Linked DNA regions of Homo sapiens: regions 1, 3, 4, 5, 6 and 7 are each linked to region 2. The links come from fine-mapping of genetic effects on gene expression. A gene starts in region 2. Each other region holds a variant in brackets. All regions are shown on one strand. Distances are from middle to middle.

The links.
Region 1: its variant is fine-mapped to the expression of RFWD3 in whole blood (INTERVAL, PIP above 0.99).
Region 3: its variant is fine-mapped to the expression of RFWD3 in whole blood (TOPMed, PIP above 0.99).
Region 4: its variant is fine-mapped to the expression of RFWD3 in whole blood (TOPMed, PIP above 0.99). The same link has a PIP of 0.9 or more in breast, esophagus muscle, stomach, thyroid and tibial nerve.
Region 5: its variant is fine-mapped to the expression of RFWD3 in whole blood (TOPMed, PIP above 0.99).
Region 6: its variant is fine-mapped to the expression of RFWD3 in whole blood (TOPMed, PIP above 0.99).
Region 7: its variant is fine-mapped to the expression of RFWD3 in whole blood (INTERVAL, PIP 0.98).

Annotation. Positions count from the first base shown.
Region 1 is chr16:74,526,839-74,530,906 of GRCh38, forward strand. All of the region lies in intron 2 of GLG1 (golgi glycoprotein 1), which reads right to left. Among named protein-coding and RNA genes, the nearest start is that of GLG1, 78 kb to the right of the region's middle. The variant C/CTT (reference allele first, on the strand shown) is at 2,132.
Region 2 is chr16:74,665,026-74,669,093 of GRCh38, forward strand. It overlaps RFWD3 (ring finger and WD repeat domain 3), which reads right to left and starts at 1,852. Exons shown (of 13, transcript NM_018124.4): 1 at 1,761-1,852. It also overlaps the pseudogene TMPOP2. RefSeq lists a silencer at 1,382-1,531.
Region 3 is chr16:74,567,022-74,571,089 of GRCh38, forward strand. The region is part of intron 1 of GLG1 (golgi glycoprotein 1); the gene reads right to left. Among named protein-coding and RNA genes, the nearest start is that of GLG1, 38 kb to the right of the region's middle. RefSeq lists an enhancer at 720-1,219. The variant A/G (reference allele first, on the strand shown) is at 1,837.
Region 4 is chr16:74,515,175-74,519,242 of GRCh38, forward strand. The region is part of intron 2 of GLG1 (golgi glycoprotein 1); the gene reads right to left. Among named protein-coding and RNA genes, the nearest start is that of GLG1, 90 kb to the right of the region's middle. The variant T/C (reference allele first, on the strand shown) is at 2,452.
Region 5 is chr16:74,559,790-74,563,857 of GRCh38, forward strand. The region is part of intron 1 of GLG1 (golgi glycoprotein 1); the gene reads right to left. Among named protein-coding and RNA genes, the nearest start is that of GLG1, 45 kb to the right of the region's middle. The variant A/G (reference allele first, on the strand shown) is at 1,962.
Region 6 is chr16:74,685,833-74,689,900 of GRCh38, forward strand. All of the region lies in intron 4 of MLKL (mixed lineage kinase domain like pseudokinase), which reads right to left. Among named protein-coding and RNA genes, the nearest start is that of MLKL, 13 kb to the right of the region's middle. The variant C/G (reference allele first, on the strand shown) is at 1,771.
Region 7 is chr16:74,509,982-74,514,049 of GRCh38, forward strand. The region is part of intron 2 of GLG1 (golgi glycoprotein 1); the gene reads right to left. Among named protein-coding and RNA genes, the nearest start is that of CLEC18B, 91 kb to the left of the region's middle. The variant T/C (reference allele first, on the strand shown) is at 2,080.

The DNA.
Region 1 (4,068 bases), 140 kb before region 2:
TCCTTTAGCACTCCTAACTATGAGGTAGAATTCAAATTTGTTCCATGTGATAGTCTGACTAGTGTTGAGTAAGTCGCTACACGCAAATTTGCTTAGAACAATAATGTCTCAGGGCATAATCTGTGTTTTGGGTAAAGTGCTATCAACCTGTAAGGGTCATGATGGCTAAATACCATTAACTGAACAATCATTATGTGAAACAAATCTGTATCCTGATTATACATCCTTAACTTGGTCACAGTCGAAATTGAATTGATATTATGCTACCTCATACACAATATAAGAATATTCCAAAGTAAAATTATATTTTTATTCCTACCCACCCTTTGTGCTACTGTTGTCATATATTTTATTCTACATGTTATAATCTGAAAGTATACTGTTATTGTTTTGGCTTAAGTCAGTTCTTTTTTTTTTTTTTTTTTTTTGAGATGGAGTTTTGCTCTTTTTGCCCAGGATGGAGTGCAATGGCGCTATCTCGGCTCACTGCAACCTCTACCTCCCAGATTCAAGTGATTCTCACGCCTTGGCCTCCTGAGTAGCTGGGATTACTGGTGTGCACCACCACACCCAACTAATTTTTATATTTTTAGTGGAGATGGGGTTTCACCATGTTGGCCAGGCTGGTCTCGAACTCCTGACCTGAGGTGATCCACCCACCTCAGCCTCCCAAAGTGCTGGGATTACAGGCGTGAGCCACCACGCCTGGCCAAGTCAGTTATCTTAAAGCATGAAAGAATAATAGTCATACGTATCAATTATTTTTCTCTTCTAGTGCTCCTACTTCTCTGCTTCAATTTGTGATCCTTTTACCTTCAAGAATTTAGGATTTCTCACAGTGTGCAAATGTGGGAGATGAATATTCTCAGCTTTCGCTTGTCTGATAACACCTATTTTATTTTTTTTGAGATAGAGTCTTGCTCTGTCGGCCAGGGGTGAGTGCCGTGGCGGGATCTCAGCTCACTGCGACCTCTTCCTCCCCAGTTCAAGTGATTCTTATGCCTCAGCCTCCCAAGTAGATGGGATTACAGGTGCGGTGGTTAATTCTTTTTTTTTTTTTTTTTGAGATGGAGTCTCGTTCTGTCACCCAGGCTGAAGTGCAGTGGTGCAGTCTCGGCTCACTGCCAGCTCCACCTCCCAGGGTCACACCATTCTCCTGCCTCAGCCTCCCGAGCAGCTGGGACTACAGATGCCCACCACCACACCTGGCTAGCTTTTTTGTATTTTTAGTAGAGATGGGGTTTCACCGTGTTAGCCAGGATGGTCTCGATCTCCTGACCTAGTGATCTGCCTGCTGGGTTTACAGGCGTGAGCCACAAAACCTGGCCATTTTTGTATTTTTAATAGAGACAGGATTTCACCATGTTGGCCAGGCTGGTCTTCAACTCCTAGCCTCAAGCGATCTGCCTGCCTCTACCTCCCAAAATGCTGGGATTACAGGGGTGAGCCACGGTGCCTGGCCTATTTTCATTTTTTAAAGGGGTATTTTTTGCTGGATATAGAATTCCATGTTGGCATTTTCTCTCAGCATTTTACATTTATTGTTTCATTTGCTCTAGTTTCTACTGCTTGCTTTGTTGAGAAGCCAGCTGTCATTTTCCTTCCCTCAAGAGAATGTCTCTTTTTCTCTGCCTGCTTGTTGAGTTTTCTTTTTATCTTTTCGTTTTGGCAGATTGTTAATAATGTGTCTAGGCTAGGTGTGGTGGCTCACACCTATAATCCCAGTACTTTGGCAAGTCGAGGCGGGTGGATCACCTGAGGTCAGGAGTTCGAGACCAGCCTGACCAACATGGTGAAACCCTGTCCCTACTAAAAATACAAAAGTTAGCTGGGCGTGGTTGTGGGCACCTGTAATCCCAGCTACTCAGGAGGCTGAGGCAGGAGAATCACTTCAACCCCAGAGGCGGAAGTTTCAGTGAGCCGAGATCACACCATTGCACTGCAGCCTCAGTGACAGAGCGAGATTCTGTCTCAAAAAAAAAAAAAAAAAAAAAAAAATTGTTAGGTGAGTATGGATTTCTCTTGAGGTTCACTAAGTTCGTTGAATTTATGGGTTAATGCCTCTCATTAGATTTGGAAAACATCTTGGCCATTATTTCTTCGAATACTGCTTCTATCCCATTCTGTCTGC[C/CTT]TTTTTTTTTTTTTTGAGACAGAATCTCGCTCTGTTGCCCAGGCTGGAGTGCAGTGGTACGATAGTGGTTCACTGCAACCTCCACCTCCCAGATTCAAGCAATTCTCCCGCCTCAGTCTCTTGAGTAGCTGGGATTACAGGCACCTGCCACCACACCCAGCTGATTTTGTAATTTTTAGTAGATATGGGGTTTTTTACCGTGTTGAACAGGCTGGTCTCGAACTCCTGACCTCAAGTAATCCACCTGTCTTGACCTCCCAAGGTGCTGGGATTACAGGCGTGAACCACCGCACCTGGCCATGAATCTGTTTTTATGTCCACTAAAGCTGTCTTTTAAAACTACCCATAAGTTCTTAATTTCTGAAATTACATTTAGTCCAAAAATGTCTAATTGATTTTCTTAATAAAGACTAATTCTCGGTTGAAATACTTCATATTTTCATCCATTTTAATTTTCCTCTATTTATAGGAAAATATTTTATTTTCCTCTATTTTATTTATAGGAAAATATTTTATTTTCCTCTATTTTATTAGTTATTTGAAGTCCTTGTCTGCTATTAATAATTCCAATATATGAATTACCTCTTCTCTGGATCTCTCTCTGTTGGCTACTTTATCTCTTGATATCTTCCTGCTTCTTCTCATATCCAGCCATTTCTGATAGCATGCGGGACATTATGAATGGCTATATTATAGAATTTCTGGGTTATATAATTGTTCTCTAAAGAGTCCTGACTGCTTCTTACATAGACCTTCCACCAAATCTCCTGTTTTTTGGATACTATTTGTCCCCCATTTTCAGCAGTATCGTATCCTTCCTATTCCTTGGCTCTTTGAGAGTTCTTTTTTTTTTTTTTTTTTTTTTGTGACGGAGTCTCACTCTGTCACCCAGACTGGAGGGCAGTGGCACGATCTCACTGCAACTTCTATCTCCCCGGTTCAAGCGATTTTCCTGTTTCAGACTCCTGAGTAGCCAGGATTACAGGGGTGTGCCACGACGCCTGGCTAATTTTTTTATTTTTAGTAGAGGGGTTTCACTATGTTGGCCAGGCTGGTCTCAAACTCCCGACCTCAGGTGATCCACCCAGCCTTCCAAAATTCTGGGATTACAGGTGTGGACTACTGCGCCCGGCTGGCTCTTTGAGAGTTCCAAGGCACACATCAACTTTTTTCTGGGTTTCTCTTCTGTCAGATTCAGTCTATTGATGGATTTTGAGGTTTTCCCCTAATCCTTTGCTTTATAAATAATGCCACAACAAATATCCTTTTATAGACACATCTCTATCCATTCTTTTAACTATCCATAAATTCATAGAAGTAGAAATGCTGGGTCAAAACATATGCATTTTAGGTTGACTGTTTTATAGCTTGTTTTTATTCCCATACATAGGCTTGAACAGGGTTCAGCCAACTTCTTCTGCAGAGAGCCAGAAAGTAACAGTTCTCAGGGAACTGTAGTCACTGTTGCAGTTACTCAACTTTGCCATCCTAGTGTGAAAAGCAGCCACTGGCAATACATAAATAAATGGTGTGGCTGTTTCAATAAAATTTTATGTATAAAAACAGGTAGTAGACTGGATTTGGCCTAAGTGTTGTAGTTTTTTGATCTATGGGCTAGAGAATGCTTAAATACACACATCCTTATCAATACTGTGTATTTATCCTTTTTTTTTTTTTCTTTTTAAGAGATGGGGGGCTCACTTTGTTACCCAGGCTGCAGTGCAGTTTTGTGATCGTAGGTCACTGCTACCTCGAACTCCTGGCTCAAGGGGTCCTCCAGCCTCAGCCTCCCGAGTAGTTGGGAGTACAGGTGCGAACCCATTTATCAAATTTTTGATATTTGCTAATCAAATGGATGACAACAGTGCACTCATTTTTTGCTGAATTTTTATGCTTTTGATTCTGAGGGAGAATAAACTTTTTACTGTTTATTGGAC
Region 2 (4,068 bases):
AGCGGTGCTTAAAATGTCAACCTCAGACTTGTCATCTTTGTTACTCAGGTTTCAATCAATGGCCACAACAGGCAGGACGAAAGCCCCTCAATTAAAGGTTGAGAAGAGGTGGGCGGGGGAAGTGTTCAAATCTTTGCTCTGGCCGGTGCAGAGGGTCACGCCTGTGATCCCTGGACACTGAAATGCCCAGGCGGATGGATCACTTACGCTCTGGTGTTCCAGACCAGCTTGGGCAACACAGTGAAATTCCCATCTCTACCAAAAAAGAAAAATAGAACAGGTCAGGCGCGGTGGCTCACACCTGTAATCCCAGCACTTTGGGAAGCCGAGGGCAGACCACTTGAGGTCGGAGTCCCAGAATGGCCAATATGGTGAAACCCCGTCTCCACTAAAAATACAAAAACTACCCGGGTGTGGTGGCGCATGCCTGTAATCCCAGCTACTTGGGAGGCTGAGGCAGGAGAATCGCTTGAACCCGGGAGGCAGAGGTTGCAGTGAGCCGAGATCGCACCACTGCACTCCAGCAGGGGCAACAAAGCGAGACTCTATCTCAAAAAAAGAAAGAAAAAAGAAAAATAAAACAATGAGCCGGGCGTGGTGGCGCGCACCTGTGGTCCCAGCTATTGCGGGAAGCCGAGGTGGGAGGATCCCTGGGGCCCGGGAGTTCGAGACTGCAGTGAGCTCTTCCAGCCTGGGTGCAACAGGGAGACTTTTCTTTCTTTCTTTCTTTCTTTTTTTGAGATGGAGTTTCACTCTTGTTGCCCAGGCTGGAGTGCAATGGCGTGATCTCAGCTCACTGCAACCTCGGCCTCCCGGGTTCAAGCGATTCTCCTGCCTCAGCCTCCCGAGTAGCTGGGAAATGGGGTTTCTCCATGTTGGTCAGGCTGGTCTCGAACTCCTGGCCTCAGGTGATCCGACTGCCTCGGCCTCCCAAAGTGCTGGGATTACAGGCCTGAGCCACCGCTTTTCTCTTTATAACACCTTTTTCTCTTTATAACAGGAAAAAGGGAGGAAGAGAGAGGGAGAGGGAGAGGCGGAGGGGGAAGAGGAGGGAGAGGGAGACGGGAGGGGAAGGGAGAGAGGGAAAGAAGGAAATTAAATCCCTGTTCTTTTACTACATGGGGAAAGAAAGACATAGATAGATTAGATAGACAGATTAGATAGATAGATAGATAGATAGATAGATAGATAGATAGATTGATTAGATACATAGATATTAAATCCCTGTTCTTTTACTACATGGGGAAACTTTGGGCGGGTTTCCTAAACTCGGCTCAACTTGTTCTCCTGTAAAACAGGGATAATACAAGTCTTTACTCCACAGTTTCCGTGATGAAATTAAAAATGAAGTTCTTCCATCAACTTTAAAGTGATGAAGTAATCGGCGCTCAGAGCGGGCGCAGGCAACGCCGCTGAGGAGCCCGAGGCTAGGCTCTCGGGGGAAGGGCCGGGCGACCTCCCACCCCGGCCAGGGCAGGCCCCGCAGCAGCGAACTCGGCTCCTTCAGTGATCGCCCCGAGCTCTCGCCTGCCCAGCCCCCACGCCCAGCAACCCAGATACGCGCGGGGGTTCGGGCTCCTTAGCCCCGACCACTGGCGCCGCCCCGAGGGCCCGAATCCCCTCAGGCCGCCGGGTTCCAAGCCCGCGTGCAGCCCACCTCGTGGGGTGTCTCCTGAATCCCAATCCAGGAATCAGGCGTGGGGAGGTTTATCCCGAAGCTAGAGGCCCAAGGCCTGAGGAGAAGCAACACCCCTCCTCACCTGAAACCAGCAGGCCGCGGCCGGGCTCGCGAGCCCGCCGAAGACTCGGTAGTTACCTCGGCCGCACTCCGAATGCACCTACGCCAACTGCCACTTCCGGAGCCGCTCAAGCTCCCGCCAGAGCCGCCGGCAGGCATGCTCCTATTGGACAGAAGCCCTACGCTGTGGCCAATACCCACTCTTCTTCTTCAATGGGTCCCCCGATAGCTGAAGCAGCGGTGCTCTCATTGGCTGGTAGTTCGTCCTGACGAGGCGGGACCGCGCTTGAGGAAGCCTCCTACAATTGGCAGGAATCTACGTCCGTCACCTTGCACCCGCCCCGGAAAAAATGGGAGGTTTTTTTGTTTTTTTTTTGTTTGGTTTTTTTTTTTTTTTTTAGCGCGTTTTATTTGAACTTTCTGGCGGGAGAAAGTTATATGATTTCTCGGTCCATTTTGGAATGGGGATGATGATATTAAAACTGACTCCTGCTGCTTATCCCTAACGCTTTAGTGAAGGAGTTATCTGTATCCAAAGGATAGCAGCTAATCGAATAATTTCAAAATATTTCAATATTTTGAATTTCGGAGCCTGTAAAGAGGCGTAGGACAGTCCAGTTCATATGTATCCTCTCATGGGGTTGAAGAGCTCACGCAAAATACTTTGCCTACATAATCTCTTCAATCTCAAACCGCTGCAAGGGATCTGAGCTACTGAACAGTCTCAAATCACTTGTTAGGGCCGCCGCTCGCCGCCAGCGCCAAAAGAAAGGGGCCCCCGGAATTCTCCAGCTACGTACGAGGAGCGCGAGCCCACAGCCGTCTCGGCTCCGAGCCCGCCGCCGGCAGGAAAGCCACAAAGAAAACTGATAAACCCAGACAAGATGATAAAGACGATCTAGATGTAACAGAACTCACTAATGAAGATCCTTTGGATCAGCTTGTGAAATACGGAGTGAATTGTGGTCCTATTGTGGGAACAACCAGGAAGCTGTATGAGAAATAGCTTTTGAAACTGAGGGAGCAAGGAACAGAATCAAGATCGTCTCCTTCAGCAACAATTTCTTCTTCAGCAGAAAATACAAGGCAGAATGGAAGTAATGATTCTGACAGATATGGTGAAAATGAAGAAGACTCTAAATTGGGCTCAAGTTTGAGAAGAGAGAACCGCTAAACAGGGGAGTAAAGACTCCAGTAACCCTCAAGCAAAGAAGAGTTGAGCACAAGGAGAGCTATTCTCAAGCTGGAATAACTGGGACTGAATGGACAAGTGGATCTTCAAAAGGCGGACCTCTGCAGGCATTATTAACTAGGGAATCTACAAGAGGGTCAAGAAGAACTCCAAGCAAAAGGGTGCACGCTTCAGAATATTTTCGTATAGATGGAGCAGTAATTTCAGCGAGTACTCCCATAGCTGAAACTATAATTGCTTCAAACAACGAATCCTTAATTGTCAATAGGGTGACTGGAAATTTCAAGCATGCATTTCCTATTCTGCCAGTCACTGAATTCTCAGACATACCCAGAAGAACACCAAAGAAACCATTGACAAGAGCTGAAGTGGGAGAAAAAAAACACAGGAAAGAAGAGTAGAAAGGGATATTCTTAAGGAAATGTTCCCCTATGAAGCAACTACACCAACAAGAATTAGTGCTAGTTGCCGCAGAACAATCAAAGGAGCTGCAGGCCGGCCATTAGAACTCAGTGATTTGAGGATGGAGGAGTCGTTTTCATCTACATATGTTCCTAAGTATGTTCCCTTGGCAGACGTCAAGTGAGAAAATACAAAAAAAAGGGACGCTCCATTCCTGTATGGATAAAAATTTTGCTGTTTGTTGTTGTGGCAGTTTTTTTGTGTGTGTTTGGTCTATCAAGCTATGGAAACCAACCATGTAAATCCCTTCTCTAATATTCTTCCTGATGACTCTAGAAAACCCAACTGAATGGTATCTCTTTGGCACATTCAACTTGGTCTTGTATTTTTAGTAACTGTGTTGAAGAACATTCGTGTACGCTTTTTGACTCCAAGAACTAAAAATAATGTGATTTTGCCTCAATAAACGTAGTATTCCATTGGAAAGCAAACAAAAGATATATGAATGGACTTTATTAAAATGTTTTTGAACTTTGGACTAGTAGGAGATCACTTTGTGCCATATGAATAATCTTTTTTAGCTCTAGAACTTTTTTTTTTTTAGACAGGGTCTCGCTCTGTTGCCCAGGCTGGAGTGCAATGGCATGATTTCGGCTCACTGCAACCTCCACCTCCTGGGTTCAAGTGATTCTCCTGCCTCAGCCTCCTGAGTAGCTGGGATCACAGGCACGTGCCA
Region 3 (4,068 bases), 98 kb before region 2:
AGAAAAAGAAAATTGTCTTTGCCCAGAAAAAGAATCTAAGAAAACCTTTCAGGCCGCTTAATGGGTCTCCTAAAATCTAGCATTTTTGAATTTTCTATAGGAGAAAATCTTGAATAAAATTACATGATTACATGTAATTGTGTGTGTGTGTGTTGTGTGTGGGGGGTGTAGGGAGCGGGGAGAGAGAGACAGAGAGAGAGAGAGAGAGACAGACAGAGAGAGGAGTTAGCTGTTTCTTTTGTTTTGTTGGTAGGAGGAACAGAGTTAAGTTCAATTACCAATGTTGTAACACGTCCCTCAGCTCTGGCCTGGCTCACAATAGTTTCACTGAAATTTGTAATGCCAGCGCTTTAGAATTTGAAATGAGAAATTGACAGGTATCTCTTTATTCTAATGATAGAAGCAAATACAAAACATTGGGGTTTCCTAGGACACAGGACTATTCTTCATTTGGGTCACGTCAGAAGTAAAACTCCAAAAGATAAAAATCACTGCTTCCTGTGCTGAAACCTTACTATATATGGTGCACTTTCTTTTTTTTTTTTTTTTTTTTTTTTTGAGACGGAGTCTCGCTCTGTCGCCCAGGTCGGACTGCGGACTGCAGTGGCGCAATCTCGGCTCACTGCAAGCTCCGCTTCCCGGGTTCACGCCATTCTCCTGCCTCAGCCTCCCGAGTAGCTGGGACTACAGGCGCCCGCCACCGCGCCCGGCTAATTTTTTGTATTTTTAGTAGAGACGGGGTTTCACCTTGTTAGCCAGGATGGTCTCGATCTCCTGACCTCATGATCCACCCGCCTCGGCCTCCCAAAGTGCTGGGATTACAGGCGTGAGCCACCGCGCCCGGCCATATGGTGCACTTTCATTGTCTGCTTCTCTAGCCTCCTGGCTTTCTTTTGGGGATTCACCCAACTCTGTCAATCTCAGTCTGAGTGCTCCAGGTCGGGCCTCATTCCTGACACAGATAGAGCAAATGAGTCCACATAATCCAAGACTATGCACATAACATTCCTAACTGGTTCAGGGACTCAGACAATGACAAACAATACAACATTTGCAATAATGCTGGGACACATGGAGGAACAGGAATAAAAGCTACTTTGGCCACCTTGCCACAACGTGGAGACTGTGAAAGAAGCCAGCCCAGAAGCAGATGGTAAGAGAAGTCAGTCCTGCTAAGATGCCAAGTATCAATACCTATCTAAGCCTGAAGCCTGTGCTAAACCTTGTCTTTACAGTTATATGAGGCAAATTCTCTTTTTACCTGAAGCTAGTTTGGAAAGGACTTCCTATTACTATAAAAGAATCATAACTCCTAACTGATATAGTGAGGAACATGAACTTTTTACTTAAATCTCACTCTGATAAAGCAGAAAGAAGTATCAGAATAATTTTACTGCTTTTTTTTTTTTTTTTTGAGACGGACTCTTGCTCTTTCGCCCAGGCTGGAGTGCAATGGCATGATCTCGGCTCACTGGAACCTCCGCCTCCCGGGTTCAAGCGATTCTCCTGCCTCAGCCTCCTGAGTAGCTGTGATTACAGTTGCACACCACCACGCCTGGCTAATTTTTATGTTTTTAGTAGAGACGGGGTTTCACCATGTTGGCCAGGCTGGTCTAGAACTCCTGATATCAGGTGATCCGCCCACCTCGGCCTCCCAAAGTGCTGGGATTACAGGCATGAGCCACTGCGCCTGGCCTGTACGTATATTTTCTATTTGCAAAGTGCTTAACCAATAGTATCTTAAATCAGGTGCACATGCAAAGTAACAGAAAAGCTTAAAAATAAGTGCAGTTATCTGCTTCTGGAAGTGGTTATTTAGAACAACCCTTTAACTAT[A/G]AACAACTAAAAGTGTTGGAAAACAAAAATCTTCTTAAAAGCAATAAAGAGCTAAAAATACCGTAAATTACTGTCAAGCCAGAACTGAAGGAAAAGGGGGTACATACCCAAGAACACAGGAGAGCTCAAAAGCTCACTTCTGCCTTGAAGGCACTTGCTAAACCCATCAAAATGACTGAAGGGCCGTGTGGGCAGAAACCAAGCCCAAGGCCTGCCCAAGGTAGGAAATCTAATGAGATAGTCCTCACTTAAAGCTGGCATCTCAAAAGGCTACACCCTTAAGACAAGGGTGAATCAGAAGTAAACCAGCCTTTCCACAGATCTGAGCACAGATTTGTACTGTATGGGTGTTTCAGAAAACCTCGAACTGTGAGAATGATGTAAGATGGTCTTAGAATGGAGTGGTCAGAATTCCCTAGCATAAGCAAATAAAAATCCTTTCTGAAACAAGACATCATAAACGATAATCAGCAGAAAGGCAAAGAAACTTTAATAGACATTTAAACACAGTAAACCCAAGTATTTATTCTATGTTTCCTTGGGTTTGAAGGTATATATACCTGAACTGAACAATGCCAGCTGCTTATCAACTGTCATTCACAAACCTGGAACACATCCACCTCGTAAATACTGATTCCAGTTTCAAATACATCTCTAACAGAGTCTAGCTTATCATTATTTCTAGTTCTCATATTTGCACTTGTATCATCAAAATGCAATAGTGCCATGCACAGTGGCTCACACTTGTAATCCCAGCACTTTGGGAGGCCGAGATGGGTGGATCACCTGAGGTCAGGAGCTCAAGACCAGCCTGGCCAACATGGTGAAACCGCATCTCTACTAAAAATACAAAAAATTAGCTGGGCATGGTGGGGCTCACCTGTAATTCCAGCTACATGGGAGGCTGAAGCAGGAGAATCACTTGAACCTGGGGAACAGAGTTCCAGCGAGCCAAGATCACGCCACTGCACCCTAGCCTGGGCGACAGATTGAAACTCCAACTCAAAAAAAAAAAAAGAAAAAAAAAAAAAAGCAACGGTTTTGGCCGGGCGCAATGGCTCACACCTGTAATTCCAGCATTTTGGGAGGCTGAGGCCAGTGGATCGCTTGAGCCCAGGAGTTTGAGACCAGTTTGGGCAACACAGCAAACCCCGTCTCAAAAAAAAGAAAAGGAAAGAAAAAAAAAAAACAATAGTTTTGAAATTTTTTGATGGCTCATAATTTTATTGAAAAGACAAATGGTTTTTGCTCCATAATTACAAAATATTTTCATTTTTATATTAATAAAAATCAATCAGAATAATAAATCCAATGAATATTTTCACTTCTACATCACCTATTTCCTTCTAGGTGCTTTTGTACACACACCTGACTTCACCATTTCTCCAGCTGTCTAATAAACTTTGGTGCAAAAACATCATAAAACCACCAGCTATTTGTCTCTCTACTGGTACCAGCAAACTACCAGGTATTTGTCTCTTTACATTTATCTTTTAATTCACATAATAATTGTGAAGCATTTCTCAGCCTCAGAAAATCTTAAAAGAAGCTATAGGAATAAACTGCTCAATAGCAAAAATGAAAGCCAAAAGACAGTGGAATAAAAAAAAATGCACTGAAAGAAAAATATATTCCAACCTAAAATTCTATACTGTGATGGATTTTTTCAAGGCCACAAATCCCACCTGCCCCCCTTTCTGAAAGCACAGCCCTTTGAATGTGACATTGTTGCTCATGCCATCAACAGATGGAGTCAGGCCAGGCACAGTGGCTCTCATCTGTAATCACAACACTTTGGGACGCCAGGGCAGGAGCATCACTTGAGATCAGGAGTTTGAGACCAGCTTGGTCAACATAGTGGGACCCTGTCTCTATAAAAAATCAGCCAGGTGTGGTGGCACACGCCTACAGACACAGCCACTTGGAAGGCTGAAGTGGGAGAATGGGTTGAGCCCAGGAGTTTGAGGCTACAGCAAGCTACAATCATGCCACTGCATTCCAGCTTGGATGACAGCATAAGACCCTGTCCGCCTACCACCCGCTGGCCCCTCAAAAAACAGATGGATTATAATTCCTTCACTCTTTGTGTTTTTTTGGTCTTTTTTTTTTTTTAACCACACCTCACTTGGCACTTTAACCTTTTGAATCTGGGCATGGCTACCTGACCTGCTTTGGTCAGTAAAACATTAGCAAATGTGACATCAGAGGACTGAAAAGTGCTTGTACACTGGA
Region 4 (4,068 bases), 150 kb before region 2:
AGACTCTCACACAATAATAATGGGAGACTTTAACACCCCACCATCAATAATAGACATATCAACGAGACAGAAAATTAACAAGGATATCCAGGACTTGAACTCAGCTCTGGAGCGGGCAGACCTAATAGACATCTACAGAACTCTCCACCCCAAATCAACAGAATATACATTCTTCTCAGCACCACATTGCACTTATTCTAAAATTTATCACATAATTGGAAGTAGAACACTCCTCAACAAATGTAAAAGAGGAGAAATCACAACAAACTGTCTCTCAGACCACAGTGCAATCAAAGTAGAACTCAGGATTAAATATCTCACTCAAAACCGCACAACTACATGGAAACTGAACAACCTGCTCCTGAATGACTACTGGGTAAATAACGAAATGAAGGCAGGGATAGCATTAGGAGATATACCTAATGTTAAATGACAAGTTAATGGGTGCAGCACACCAACATGGCACATGTATACATATGTAACTAACCTACACGTTGTGTACATGTACCCTAAAACTTAAAGTATAATTTTAAAAAATGTAAAGGGGCTAAATGCTCCAATTAAAAGACACAGATTGGCAAACTGGATAAAGAGTCAAGACCCATCAGTGTGCTGTATTCAGGAAACCCCTCTCACGTGCAGAGACACACATAGTCTCAAAATAAAGGGATGGAGGAAGATCTACCAAGCAAATGGAAAACAAAAAAAGGCAGGGGTTGCAATCCTAGTCTCTGATAAAACAGACTCTAAACCTAAACCAACAAAGATCAAAAGAGACAAAGAAAGCCATTACATAACGGTAAAGGGATCAATTCAACAAGAAGAGCTAACTATCCTAAACATATATGCACCCAATACAGGAGCACCCAGATTCATAAAGCAAGTTCTTAGAGACCTACAAAGAGACTTAGACTCTCACACAATAATAATGGGAGACTTTAACACCACACTGTCAACATTAGACAGATCAACGAGACAGAAAGTTAAGAAGGATATCCAGGAATTGAACTCAGCTCTGCACCAAGCAGACCTAATAGACATCTACAGAACTCTCCACCCCAGATCAACAGAATATACATTCTTTTCAGCACCACACCACACCTATTCCAAAACTGACCACATAGTTGGAAGTAAAGCACTCCTCAGCAAATGTAAAAGAACAGAAATTGTAACAAACTGTCTCTCAGACCACAGTGCAATCAAACTAGAACTCAGGATTAAGAAACTCACTCAAACTTGCTCAACTACATGGAAACTGAACAACCTGCTCCTGAATGACTACTGGGTACATAACGAAATGAAGGCAGAAATAAGGATGTTCTTTGAAACCAATGAGAACAAAGACACAACACACCAGAATCTCTGGGACACATTCAAAGCAGTGTGTAGAGGGAAATTTACAGCACTAAATGCCCACAAGAGAAAGCAGGAAAGATCTAAAATTGACACCCTAACATCATAATTAAAAGAACTAGAGAAGCAAGAGCAAACAATTTCAAAAGCTAGCAAAAGACAAGAAGTAACTAAGATCGGAGCAGAACTGAAGGAGACAGAGACACAAAAAACCCTTCAAAATAAACCAATGAATCCAGGAGCTGTTTTTTTGAAAAGATCAACAAAATAGATAGACTGCTAGCAAGACTAATAAAGAAGAGACAAGAATCAAATAGACACAATAAAAAATAATAAAGGGGCTATCACCACCGATCCCACAGAAATACAAACTACCATCAGAAAATACTATAAACACCTCTATGCAAATAAACTAGAAAATCTAGAAGAAATGGATAAATTCCTGGACACATACACCCTCCCAAGACTAAACCAGGAAGAAGTTGAATCTCTGAATAGACTAATAACAGGTTCTGAAATTGAGGCAATAATTAATAGCCTATCAACCAAAAAAAGTCCAGGACCAGGTGGACTCACGGCCGAATTCTACCAGAGGTACAAAGAGGAGCTGGTACCATTCCTTCTGAAACTATTCCAATCAATAGAAAAAGAGAGAATCCTCCCTAACTCATTTTATGAGGTCAGCATCATCCTGATACCAAAGCTTGGCACACAACAAAAAAAGGGAATTTTAGACCAATATCCCTGATCAACATCTAGCTGAAAATCCTCAATAAAATACTGGCAAACCAAATCCAGCAGCACATCAAAAAGCTTATCCACCACCATCAAGTTGGCTTCATCCCTGGGATGCAAGGCTGGTTCAACATATGCAAATCAATAAACGTAATCCATCACATAAACAGAATCAGTAATAAAAACCACATGATTATCACAATAGATGCAGAAAAGGCCTTTGACAAACTTCAACAGCCTTGCAAACTAAAAACTCTCAATAAACTCGGTATCGATGGAACATATCGCAACATACTAAGAGCTATTTATGACAAACCCACAGCCAATATCATACTGAATGGGCAAAAACTAGAAGCATTCCCT[T/C]TGAAAACCAGCAAAAGACAAGGATGCCCTCTCTCACCACTCCTATTCAACATAGTATTGGAAGTTCAGGCCAGGGCAATCAGGCAAGAGAAAGCAATAAAGGGTATTCAAATAGGAAGAGAAGAAGTCAAATTGTCCCTCTTTGTAGATGACATGACTGTATATTTAGAAAAGCCCGTCATCTCAGCCCAAAATCTCCTTAAGCTGATAAGCAACTTCAGCAAAGTCTCAGGATACAAAATCAGTGTGTAAAAATCACAAGCATTCCTATAAATCAATAACAGACAAACAGAGAGCCCAATCATGAGTGAACTCCCATTCACAATTGCTTCAAAAATAATAAAATACCTAGGAATCCAACTCACAATGGCTGTGAAGGACCTCTTCAAGGAGAACTACAAACCACTGCTCAAGGAAATAAGAGAGGACACAAACAAATGCAAAAACATTCCATGCTCGTGGATAGAAGAATCAATATCGTGAAAATGGCCTTACTACCCAAAGTAATTTATAGAGTCAATGCTATCCTCATCAAGCTGCCACTGACTTTCTTCACAGAATTGGTAAAAACGACTTTAAACTTCATATGGAGCCAAAAAAGAGCTAGCATAGCCAAGAAAATCTTGGGCAAGAAGCACAAAGTTGGAGGCATCATGCTACCCGACTTCGAACTATACTACAAGGCTAAAGTAACCAAAACAGCGTGGTACTGGTACCAAAACAGATATACAGGCCAATGGAACAGAATGGAGTCCTCAAAAATATCACCAGATGTCTACCACCATCTGATCTTTGACAAACCTGACACACGTAAACAATGGGGAAAAGATTCCCTATTTAATAAATGGTGTTGGGAAAACTGGCTAGCCATATGCAGAAAACTGAAACTGGACCCGTTCCTTACACCTTATACAAAAATAAACTCAAGATGGATCAAAGGCTTAAACGTAAGACCTAGGATGATAAAAATCCTAGAAGAAAACCTGGGCTGTATTAATACCATTCAGGACATAGGCATGGGCAAAGCAATGGCACCAAAAGCAATGGCAACAAAAACCAAAATTGACATATGGGATCTAATTCAACTAAAGAGCTTCTGCACAGCAAAAGAAACTATCATCAGAGTGAACAGGCAACCTACAGAATGGGAGAACATTTTTGCAATCTATCCATGTGACAAAGGGCTAATATCCATTAAGTCAAGAAACAACAGATGCTAAAGAGGTTGTGGAAAAATAGCAATGCTTTTACACTGTTGGTGGGAGTGTAAATTAGTTCAACCATTGTGGAAGACACTGTGATGATTCCTCAAGGATCTAGAACTAGAAATACCATTTGACCCAGCAATCCCATCACTAGGCATATACCTAAAGGATTATAAATCATTATATGATAAAGACACATGCACATGTATATTTATTGTGGCACTATTCACAATAGCAAAGACTTGGAACCAACCCAAATGTCCATCAATGATAGACTGGATTAAGAAAATGTGGCACATATACACTGTGGAATACTATGCAGCCATAAAAAAGGATGAGTTCATGTCTTTTGCAGGGACATGGATGAAGCTGGAAACCATCATTCTCAGCAAACTATCACAAGATCAGAAAA
Region 5 (4,068 bases), 110 kb before region 2:
ATGTATTCACTTTGAATGTCCACTGTCACCTAAAATGTAACATGCCTAAAACATAATTTTATTTTGAATTTATTATTTTAAAAAATAAACCACTGGAGAATTTTAGACTTAATGGAAAAGTTGAGAAGACAGCACACAGAGTTCCCATATGCCTTCTCATTTTCCCCTATTGTTAATAGCTTACTTTATATAGTGCAATCTGTCACAACTAAAGAACCAACAATGGTACACATTTTATTCAGATTGTACTAGGTATTTTATGAGGATGATGGTTAATTTTTTGTGTCAACTTCACTGGGCCACACGCGTTTCGCCAAACATTGTTCTGGGTGGGTCTACGGTGCTGTTTTTGGATGAGATTAGCACTTGGACAGGCAGACTAGCAAAGCAGACTGTCCTTCCCAATGTGGGTGGGTCCCATTCCATCAGTTGAAGGTCTGAATAGAACAAAAAGGCTGAAGCTCCCCCAGGACTCCAGAATCAAAGAAAGGGGGGATTTCCTCCTAACTGCTTTGAATTGGGACCTCAGTTTTTGTCTTTTTTTTTTTTTTTTTTTGAGACGGAGTCTCACTCTGTCGCCCAGGCTGGAGTGCAATGGCACGATCTCAGCTCACTGCAACCTCCGTCTTCCAGGTTCAAGCGATTCTGCCACCTCAGCCTCCCCCCGCCGCCCCCCTGCCCCCGCAGTAACTAGTAACTTGACTGCCATCAAGCCTAGCTAATTTTTGTATTTTTGTAGAGATGGGTTTCAGCATGTTGGCCAGGATGGCCTTGAACTGACCTCAGGTGATCTGCCTGCCTCAGCCTACCAAAGTGCTGGGATTACAGGCATGAGCCACTGCGCCTAGCCCTAAAAACTCTTTATAAAAGGCAAAGCTTAAGCAACTAATTGTAAGAAAAATTAAACCTGAGCTGGGCATGGTGGCTTAGGCCTGTAACCCCAGCTACTTGGAGGCTGAGGCAGGAGGATCTCTGGAAGCCAGGAGTTTGATTGAGACCAGACTGGGCAACACAGCAATCCCATCTCGAAAGAAAAAAAGAAGGGAGGAAGGGAGGGAAAGAAGGAAGGAAAGAGAGAAGCAATTCTGTATATAGAATATGTAAAGAAAGTAAGATATGTTTTTGTAAGGAAAGCTATAAAGGCATAAAAATATGTGTTTGCTGAGAAAAAAAGTTATTTAAAGGTTATTTCAAATTGAATGAATTTTTAGAAGAGATATAGTCTGGCACCACGCAGTCCTGCGCAGTCCTGCACAGTCCTGCTTGGTTGCATGGCAGCACCTGGGGGTGCCCAGCTGGAGGGATGGGGCAGGATCGGGGCCAACAGGCAGCAAGCCAGGATCCTGCAGCAGCCAGCACCTTCCTCCTGCTGGTGTCAGAGCTGGGCATGGGGGGCAGCATGCCTGTGAGTAGCCTCAGAAGGCTGAGGTCCCTGCCCCCAATATTGGCACCTAGGCCTGCACCCTCACACCCTTCATGACCACAACCAAATTTTCTTGTCAATTATGTCTTTAACCATGATCATTTTGTTTCCACAGTTAATTGCTTTATACGGATGCATTTTCTTTAAGCTCTTTACAACCAAGTAAAATCCTAGAGCATTATGTCTTCAAGAACGTTCATGGAAAGTAATGGAAAGGACCCTAATAAGCACTACTGAATACAAGTTTCTGATAACTTTAGGCTCATCTAATTTGGACTGGGTAAGAATTCCCAGAACTTTAATAAAGAGACTGGTTTATAAAACTGCTAACCCAAGCAGGACAAAAATTAACTGAATACTAAGAAAAATACTCTGCCAGATTTTCATGCTAAATCAGCCAGTACTAAAACTGTTAAGATATGCAACTTGAATGAACTCTATGTTCCAAGTCAAATTACCTATGATAACCCATTTAATGAACAGTGCTATGCACCTGAATTGGAGATACAAAATTGGTATTTAACAGGCTATAAATGCA[A/G]TGTTAAGCATGGAATCACAGAGATCCTGCACAGCCACCTGGTCCTTCCTGAATCCGTAAATCTTCCATTATTAAAAGCTCTGCACTCCATGACTCATCATGGAAGACAGAAAATGATCCAAATAGAAAACATATACATTGGTGTGGTGACTGCTCTAAATCGCTAAAAATGGTTTATGACCAAGGTTTGGCTTATCAAACCTACAACCTGGGAAGATAATTAAAACTTCAGCTACCTGATGGGTCATTGGAACACTTATAGAGGAATTTCATTCAACTGTCATTTTCAACACGTTTTCTGGTAAAAGCTTTCTCATGCAAGAAGGCTGATGCTATAACAGTAGCTAAAAGGTTGTCAGAAAATGTGTTTCCCTCACGGGGCATTCCTGGAGAAATCTCCAGTGATAGTGGTACTTGTTTCACTGGACAAGTTGTAAACAGTTAAGTAAGGTATTACAGACACAACAGCTTTAGGTGAAGCTAACTGAATTGACTGGTTGCCTTGGTCAAAGGTATTGCAGATTGATGACAACCTCATCTGCTTCCAGTAGAAAATATAAGTTGACTCATTATGAAATAGTCACTGGAAGGCCTATGCCACTAATAATAGAACCTCATGTATCTTCCTCTCCCAAACTCTGATATGAATAAATGCTGCAAGCCTTTAATGCATTATACCAAAGTGTATTTTCACCAGCTAAAGGAAGCTTTTCTTTTTTTTATTTTCTGTAGATGGTCTCACTCTGTTGCCCAGGCTGGAGAGCAGTGGTGTGATCTCAGCTCTCTGCAACCTCCACCTCCCGGGTTCAAGCAATTCTTGTGCCTCAGCCTCCCAAGCAGCTGGGATTACAGGCATGCGCCACCACACCCAGCTAATTTTTGTATTTTTAGTAGAGATGGGGTTTCACCATGTTGGTCAGGCTGGTCTTGAACTCCTGGGTTCCAGAGACCTGACCTCCAGTGATTCGCCCACCTCGGCCTCCCAAAGTGTAGAGATTACAGGCATGAGCTACCGTGCTGGCAGTAAAGGAAGCTTTTCATGACCCACCCACTGAGGACATTCAAATCCTTCACAATCTAGAACCTGGAGGTTGGTTCTTCTGGAAATGACGTCAGGAAAACACTGCCCTTGTTACCCACAATGAAGCAAAACTCTGGGGCCTCAAACACTGGGTCAATTGATATCACAATGCAGGAGGGCCCCTCCAGACTTGGAATTGTACACCCATTGGAAATCTTAACGTAAAGCTAACCAGTTAGAAAAGGTTTTCCCCCAGAAGCAGATGGCACCCTAGACATGGACAGCTTTCCCAAAAGCATGGATCAAAACTTCTCTGTCATCATGAGACTCTTACCTCTCAATGTTTTCCTTGTTTATGCCTCTATGAACAACAGAAAAGGGGTCTTATGGTGCACCAATGGGGCACACTTTTATTTGTGAAAACTTTTACAGCCAACCTTATCCATAGGCAGCATTATGTCTTAATGGATGAAAGATGACAGTCCAATGTGGGTTAGGAATTTTAATGGTTCTGTCAGAAAGAGAACACTGGTCCACTCCTTTTAACCTACATCAGAGGTGAAAAAGAACACTAGTGCTTGGAAGCCTTCATCATTCTGAATGGCCTTCATTGTTAGGTCACTTTTTCCAGAGTTTGGAGTAAACGATACAGTGTCTAGAAATTTGTCCCTCATGGGCTGGACGCAGTGGCTCATGCCTGTAATCCAAGCACTTTGGGAGGCTGAGGTGGGCAGATCACTTGAGGTCAGGAGTTCAAGACCAGCCTGGTCAAAATGGGAACTCTGTCTCTAGCAGAAACACAAAAATTAGCGGGGCGTGGTGGCGTGTGCCTGTAGTCCCAGCTATTTGCGAGGCTGAGGTGGGAGAACTGCTTGAACCCAGGAGGCAGAGGTTGCAGGGAGCCGAGATCACGCCACTATTCTCCAGCCTGCGCAACAGAGTGAGACCCTGTCTCAAAAAAAAAAAAAAGAAAGAAAAAGAAAAAAAAAAGAAATTTGTTCCTCATGATATGCTCCATAGCAGATTCTACTGCAAAGGCTATGGTTACAAAACAGACTTCTTTAAATTATCTTGCTAAAGGTCTAC
Region 6 (4,068 bases), 21 kb after region 2:
AGTCTGATAGAATTGTATTTTTATGACCTACAGGGCTTTACTAGGCAAACTAAAAAGTCAAGTATTTGTTACTGTTTTTAGGCTGTAACCTGTTGTTTAGCATATACTCTGACAGATTGTGGTGTGTGTCTTTTTTTTTTTTTTGGAGACAGGGTCTTGCTTTGTCACCCAGGCTGGAGTGCAGTGGTGCGATCTTGGCTCACTGCAGCCTCCACCTCCCAGGTTGAAGCAATTCTCATGCCTCAGCCACCTGAGTAGCTGGAACTACAGGTGCGTGCCACCATGCTTGGCTAATTTTTGTATTTTTTTTGCAGAGACATGATTTCACCATGTTGGCCAGGCTGGTGTCAAACTCCTGGCCTCAAGTGATTTGCCTGCCTACGCCTCCCAAAGTGCTGGGATTTCAGGTGTGAGTCACCGTGCCCAGCCCGTGGTGTGTGTCTTTGATGAATAAAAATAATGATACTAGGCCGGGCGTGGTGGCTCATGCCTGTAATCCCAGCACTTTGGGAGGCCGAGGCAGGTGGATCACAAGGTCAGGAGTTCGAGACAATCCTGCCGAACATGGTGAAACCCCGTCTCTACTAAAAATACAAAAAAATTAGCTGGGTGTGGTGGCGGGCGCCTGTAGCCCCAGCTACTTGGGAGGCTGAGGCAGGAGAACGGCGTGAACCCAGGAGGTGGAGCTTGCAGTGAGCCGAGATCACACCATTGCACTCCAGCCTGGGTGACAGAACGAGACTACGTCTCCACACACACACAAAAAAAGATATTTATTAAGTGAAATCTTATAACCAAAATTCCTTCCAAAACGTGGGCCTTAAAAAATGTAGGCAGGTAAATTATTAAAGAGGATCACTGGAACCACCAACTCAATCCAATCTGTTCATTCACTCTGAGTCTTAGACTCAAAGGGCAAAGGAGGCTTGTCCAAGGTCTGTCAGAGAATCAGGGCAGGTTCAGAGCCTATAAAAATCAATTGTATTTCTATCTGCTAGCAATTAACAATCAAAAGATTAAATTAAAAATTTTCATTTCCAATAGCATAAAGAGAATAAAATACTTAGGAATAAATTTACAAAAGAAGTGCAAGTCTCACCCTGAAAATTTTGTACCTAAATTGTTGAAAGAATTTTGTTTTGTTTTGTTTGTTTGTTTTTTGAGATGGAGCCTCACTTTTGTCGCCCAGGCTGAGTGCAATGGCATGATCTCGGCTCACTGCAACCTCTGCCTCCTGGGTTCAAGCAATTCTCCTGCCTCAGCCTCCCGAATAGCTGGGATTACAGGCGCTTGCTACCATGCCCGGCTAATTTTTGTATTTATAGTAGAGGCGGGGTTTCACCATGTTGGCCAGACTAGTCTCGAACTCCTGACCTCAGGTGATCCTCCTGCCTCAGCCTCCCAAAGTGCTGGGATTATAGGCATAACTCACTGCACCCAGCAAGAAATTTTAAAAGATCTAAATAAATGGAAACACGTCCCATGTTCTTGAATAGGAAGACTTTATACCATTAAGATGGTAACATTTTCCAAATTGACCTACAGGTTCAATGCAATCCTTACCCGATTTGTAGTTGGCTTAAAAAAAAAAAGCAAAAACAAAAACTGAAATTGACAAGATATTCCTAAAATTTGTGTGGAAATGAAAGGAATTCAGGATAGCCAAGACAGTCTTGCAAAAGAAGAACAAAGCTGGAAGACTTATACTTCTCAATTTCAAAACTTATCACAAGGTTACAGTAATGAAGACAGTATAGTGCTATCATAAGA[C/G]TAGACAAACAGATCAATGGAATAGAATTGGGGGTCCGGAAATAAACTCATACATATAAAGCCAGTTGATTTTTCACAGTTTTTTTTTTTGGAACTTGCTCTGTCACCCAGGCTGGAGTGCAGCGATGCAATTTCTGCTCACTGCAATACCTGCCTTCTGGGTTCAAGAGATTCTACTGCCTCAGCCTCCCAAGTAGCTGGGACTACAGGTGCCTGCCACCACGCCTGGCTATTTTTTTTTGCGATGGAGTCTTGCTCTGTCAAGCAGGCTGGAGTGCAGTGGCGTGATCTCAGGTCACTGCAAGCTCTGCCTCTCAGGTTCACACCATTCTCCTGCCTCAGCCTCCTGAGTAGCTGGGACTACAGGTGCCCGCCACCACACCTGGCTAATTTTTTGTATTTTTAGTAGAGACGGGTTTCACCATATTAGCCAGGATGGTCTTGATCTCCTGACCTGGTGATCTGCCCGCCCTGGCCTCCCAAAGTGCTAGGATTACAGTCGTGAGCCACTGCGCCCAGCCAACGCCCGGCTAATTTTTGTATTTTTAGTGGAGATGGGGTTTCGCCATGTTGGCTAGGCTGGTCTCAAACTCCTGACCTCAAGTGATCCACCTGCCTCGGCCTCCCAAAGTGCTAGGATTACAGATGTGAGCTGCAGTGCCAGGCCAGCACAGTCTTTTAAACAAATGGCTCTGGGACATGTGAATATCAACATGCAGAAAAATGAAGTTGAATGACTACCTTATACAATACACCAAAATTAACTCTAACTTCGGAAACCTAAATATAAGAGCCAAAAACTATAAACTCTTAGAAGAAAACACAGGAGGGCCAGGTGCAGTGGCTCAAGCCTGTAATCCCAGCAGTTTGGGAGGCCAAGGTGGGTGGATTGCTTGAGGTTAGGAGTTTCAGACCAGCCTGGCCAACATGGTGAAACCCTGTCACCACTAAAAATACAAAAATTAACTGGGCCTGGTGGTGCATGCCTGTAGTTCCAGCTACTCGGGAGGCTGAGGCATGAGAATTGCTTGAACCTAGGAGATGGAGGTTGCAGTGACTGATATCACACCACTACACTCCAGCCTGGGTGACAGAGCAAGACTCCATCTCAAACAGAACAAAACAAAAAACCCCCAAAACCTGTACATGAATGTACACAGAAACATTATTCATAATAATCAAAAAGTGGAAAAAACACAAGGTCCTTCAATTGATTAATGGATAAGTAGGATATCCATACAACAGACTATCATTCAGCCATAAAAAGGAATGAAGAAATGATACTTGCTATAATATAGATGAACCTTGAAAATATCATGCTAAGTGAAAGAAGCCAGACTCAACAGGCCACATATTGTATTATTCCATTTACATTGAAGATTCAGAAAAGGCAAATCTATAGAGACAGAAGGTAGGACTGTTGCCTGGGCTCAGGATGGTGGTGATAGGGGTGAAAGAGGAATGACTGCTAGTGGGTATAGGGTTTCTCCTTCCTTCCTTCCTTTTTTCTTTTTTTTTTCTTTTTTTTTTTTGTTGGAGTCTTGCTCTGTTACCCAGGCTGGAGTGCAGTGGCACGATCTCAGCTCACTGCAACCTTGGCCTCCAAGGTTCAAGTGATTCTCCTGCCTCAGCCTCCCAAGTAGCTGGGATTATAGGCTCATGCCACCATGCCCAGCTAATTTTTGTATTTTTTAGTAGAGACGGGGTTTCACCATGTTGGCCAGGCTGGTCTTGAACTCCTGACCTCAGGTGATCTGCCCTCCTTGGCCTCCCAAAGTGCTGGGATTACAGGCGTGAGCCACTGCACCTGGCCTGTAAATATATTTAAAGCCATTAAATTGTACATTTTAAATAGGTAAATCTTACGGTATGTAAAATATATCTCAATAAAACTGTTAAAAATACAGTCTCAATGAAAATCTTGATGTGTATTTTGAGGAGTGTGATAAAACTTTCTTTGATATTTATTCAGCTAAGTCAACCTGAAAAAGAAGAATCAAGAGGAGGAAGTTCTTTACCAGATATCGAAATTTACTGCAAAGTCATATGAAAAAAACAGTAACAGTGTGTTACTGGTACAAAAACAGACAAATTGATCAGTGGGAAAGATTAGACAGATCAGAGTCAGATCTATGTCTATATAAAAACTTAATATACAATAAATATGGTACCACAAATCAACAGGGAAAAGACAGACGACTTAATAGATGGTATAGAGAAAACTGACTTACTATGTGGCTAAAAATAAAAGTTGACCCTACATAACGTCACATACAAAGGTGGATTCTAGTAGGATTA
Region 7 (4,068 bases), 160 kb before region 2:
CAGCCTCTTGATTCCCTTAAAACACTTGACACATACACTATAAGGTCTACTTTTTTTTTTTTTTTTTGAGACAGAGTTTCCCTCTTATTGCCCAGGCTGCAGTGCAATGGCGCGATCTCGGCTCACCACAACCTCTGCCTCCCAGGTTCAAGCAATTCTCCTGCCTCGGCCTCCCGAGTAGCTGGGATTACAGGCATGTGCCACCATGCCTGGCTAATTTTGTATTTTTAGTAGAGATGGGGTTTCTCCATGTTGGTCAGGCTGGTCTTGAACTCCTGCCCTCAGGTGATCCACCCACCTTGGCTTCCCAAAGTGCTGGCATTACAAGAGTGAGCCACTGCACCCAGCCCATAAGGTCCACTTTATACAACTGTTTTAACACATGTTACACTAGAAAATATCTAAAGCCTATTCTTGCAGATAATGACTAAATATTACTTTATTTTTGAAGCTTCCATAAAAATATTTTGATAAGTGATCCAATTTCTGAAACTAAGCAAAAATGAGCCTTAAATTGTTCAGTTGGTGAGATAGAGCAGAGACTTGGGATGATGTAGAACATGAAGATGTATGTATATATTCATTTTTGGAGGGGGGTACATTCCTCTCTGGCTACTATATACTCCTAGACAAAAAAATACAGTCATCAATCACTGATTCAGTTAAATATCTGCTTGGCAATGCGTTTCACAGATAGGCTATTAGAAGAAACAAGCAAATGTTTACTGAGTACATACTGTGTTCCAGACACAGTGTTAGGAACTGGTGGATAAAACATAAGGAGAAGGACAAAGACTGTCCAGTGGCAGCTACAGTCAATGGCAGGGAGTATGATCAAGTAATTGGCTAATGGCATCACTGGGTACCACAGCAGTATAGGGGAGGAATATTCCAAACTGGGGAGGGATGGGGAGTTTGGTCAGGGAAGATTTACCATAGAAAATGCTAAGATGAAACCTGAAAGGCTAGAAGCAGTTAGCCAGATTCAAGGGTAGGGAGAAGACTTTTTTAGGCAGATGACACCGCATCCATGGAAGCAAGGGGTGGAGGGAACCAGAAGTCCAATGGAGGACTGACCGAGGAGCCTCAAGCCAGGCCAGATCAGAAAGCCTTTGTAAGCCATGACTGAACTTTAACCCAAGAATAACGGGGAATCGCAGAAGAGAAAGTAGGGGGTGACACGACCAGATCTGCTTTTTAGAAGGACAGAGGCATATAAAAAGTACATTAGAAATGACATGGAAGCATGCAGTTAATTCTGTATGAGTGCTGAGGAAGATCTGAAGAAAACACAAAGGATGGGTAGGATTTCTTCTCCTCCCTCCTCAAAAACAAAAATATGAGTAAAAGCTCTCATCTCTCGGCTACCATCAATAACTGAGTTTTTAGGCTGGGCATGGTGGCTCATGCCTGTAATGCCAGCACTTTGGGAGGCCAAGGTAGGTGGATAACCTGAGGTCAGGAGTTCAAGACTGGTCTGGCTAACATGGGGAAACCCGGTCTCTACTAAAAATATAAAAATTAGCCAGGCGTGGTGGTGCATGCCTGTAATCCCAGCTACTCTGGAGGCTGAGGCAGGAGAATAACTTGAACCTTTTTTTTTTAAAAAAAAAAAAAAAAAGAAAGAAAGAAAGAAAGAAAAGAAAAGCTTTCTGGTATCACAAAAATTTAGGACAAACAGTAACAAAAGCCAGAAAAATTAAAACTATAAGCAGAATATTTCCTTACTATTTTATCGAATGCAAAGTCAGATGTCCTACAATTGAGCTAGAAATAGATTTTCCGCCAACAGACGTTTAGATGACCATTTAGATTTTTTGAATGTCTTCACCTTTTAATTTGAAAACTTACTTGTTCTGACAGGCATAAATTTCCTTATGAACAAGTCTCTTCCCTAAGAACCATGACAGTATTGTCAAATGCTAAACATTTTACTGTATCTCATCTTTTTTTTGTTCATTTCAAATTGATATATAATTCATATACCATAAAATTTACCTCTCTAAAGTGTACAATTCAGTGGTTTTTTACTTTATTCACAAGGATGGGCAACAACCACCATTGCCTAATTATAGAACA[T/C]TATCACCCCAAACAGAAGCCCACACCCATTCTGTCACACTTTATCCTCTCTACCCTCATCTTCTGGCAACCATTAATCTACTTTCTGGTCTTTTATTTCTTTTTTTTTTTTTTCTCAGACGGAGTCTTGCTCTGTCACCCAGGCTGAAGTGCAGTGGCGCGATCTCGACTCACTGAAGCCTCCGCCTGGGTGACAGAGCGAGAATCCATATTAAAAAAAAAAAAAAAAATTTTTGCCCAGGCTAGAAGTACAGTGATGCAAGTGTGATCTCGGCTCACTGCAACCTCCGCCCCCCGGGTTCAAGCAATTCTCCTGCCTCAGCCTCCGTACTAGCTGGGATTACAGGTGTGCGCCACCACATCCAGCTACATTTTTGAATTTTTAGTAGAGATGGGGTTTCACCATGTTGGCCAGGATGGTCTCGATCTCCTGACCTCGTGATCTGCTGGCTTCCAGCCTCCCAAAGTGCTGGAATTACAGACGTGAGTCATCGCGCCTGGCCTCAAATCTTAAGACATCCATCCATGAATCTATCTGTTCATCCATCCCAAACGTGTAATGAGTAACTACTATAATCTGGACATCCTTCTAGGTAATGGGGATGAGAAAGGTGAAGGAAGGAAAAAAAAAAAAAGACCATTGTCTCAGCAAGTCAAGAAGCTCAACCACAGGAGGACAAAAGAAGGAAGAGTCAGGTTGGAAAGGGAATAAACAATAAAAATATAGTGTGATAAATGTGATAACAAGCATGCAGGAGATTTTACAGAACACAAAGGAAGAACACATTTTGGTGAGTGGTAAGAGGAGGGACAGGGAGTCTTGGTAGCAGTCCAGTCATCCTGGGCTTGATCCTCAGGGATAAGAAGCAATTTAGTCAGATGAACTGACGGAGATTGGGCTTCTAAGTGTACAAAAGTAGAAAGGACACAAAGAATAAATGATAACCTATGGAAACAGAGTTCAGAATAGCTGGAGTTGAAGGTATGAAAGATGAGATGGGGCGCAGGGGTCAGATCACATTGAATACCGCAGTTCATATTAAAGGTTTTGAATTTTATCTTAAAGGAAATGGAAGGTTAATGGATAATTTTGACCAAAGAACTCAAAAGATCACATCTGATTACACTGGAGAAGGGCAGGATTTAGGGAGGTTAGTAGACCAAGAGGCAAGAACTTATTTGAATGAAAAAAGATGGGATATACTTGAGATACTTAGAATAAAGTAATTACAGGATTAGGGTGTGGGCTAGGGGATGAAGGGAAAAATTTCCTTCAGTCAAGCTCCTTGAAAATATAGTCAGCCTACTGGGAGACACCTCCCAGTAGGGGCCAACAGATATCTCATACAGGCAGGTGCCCCTCTGGGACGAAGCTTCCAGAGGAAGAATCAGGCAGCAATATTTGCTGTTCTGCAGCCTCCGCTGGTGATACCCAGGCAAACAGGGTCTGGAATGGACTTCCAGCAAACTCCAACAGACCTGCAGCTGAGGGGCCTGTCTCTTAGAAGGAAAACTAACAAACAGAAAGGAATAGCATCAACATCAACATCAACAAAAAGGACATCCACACCAAGACCCCATTCGTAGGTCACCAACATCAAAGACCAAAGGTAGAAGATGGGGAGAAACCAGAGCAGAAAGGCTGAAAATTCCAAAAACCAGAATGCCTCTTCTCCAAAGGAACACAACTCCTCACCAGCAAGGGAACAAAACTGGAAGGAGAACGAATTTGACAAGTTGACAGAAGTAGGCTTCAGAAGGTCGGTAATAACAAACTTCTCTGAGCTTAACGAGCATGTTCTAACCCATCAAAAGGAAGCTAAAAACCTTGAAAAAAGGTTAGACAAATGGCTAACTAGAATAACCAGTGTAGAGAAGAGCTTAAATGACCTGATGGAGCTGAAAACCACAGTACGAGAACTTCGTGAAGCATACGTAAGCTTCAATAGTCGATTTGATCAAGCGGAAGAAATGATCAGTGATTGAAGA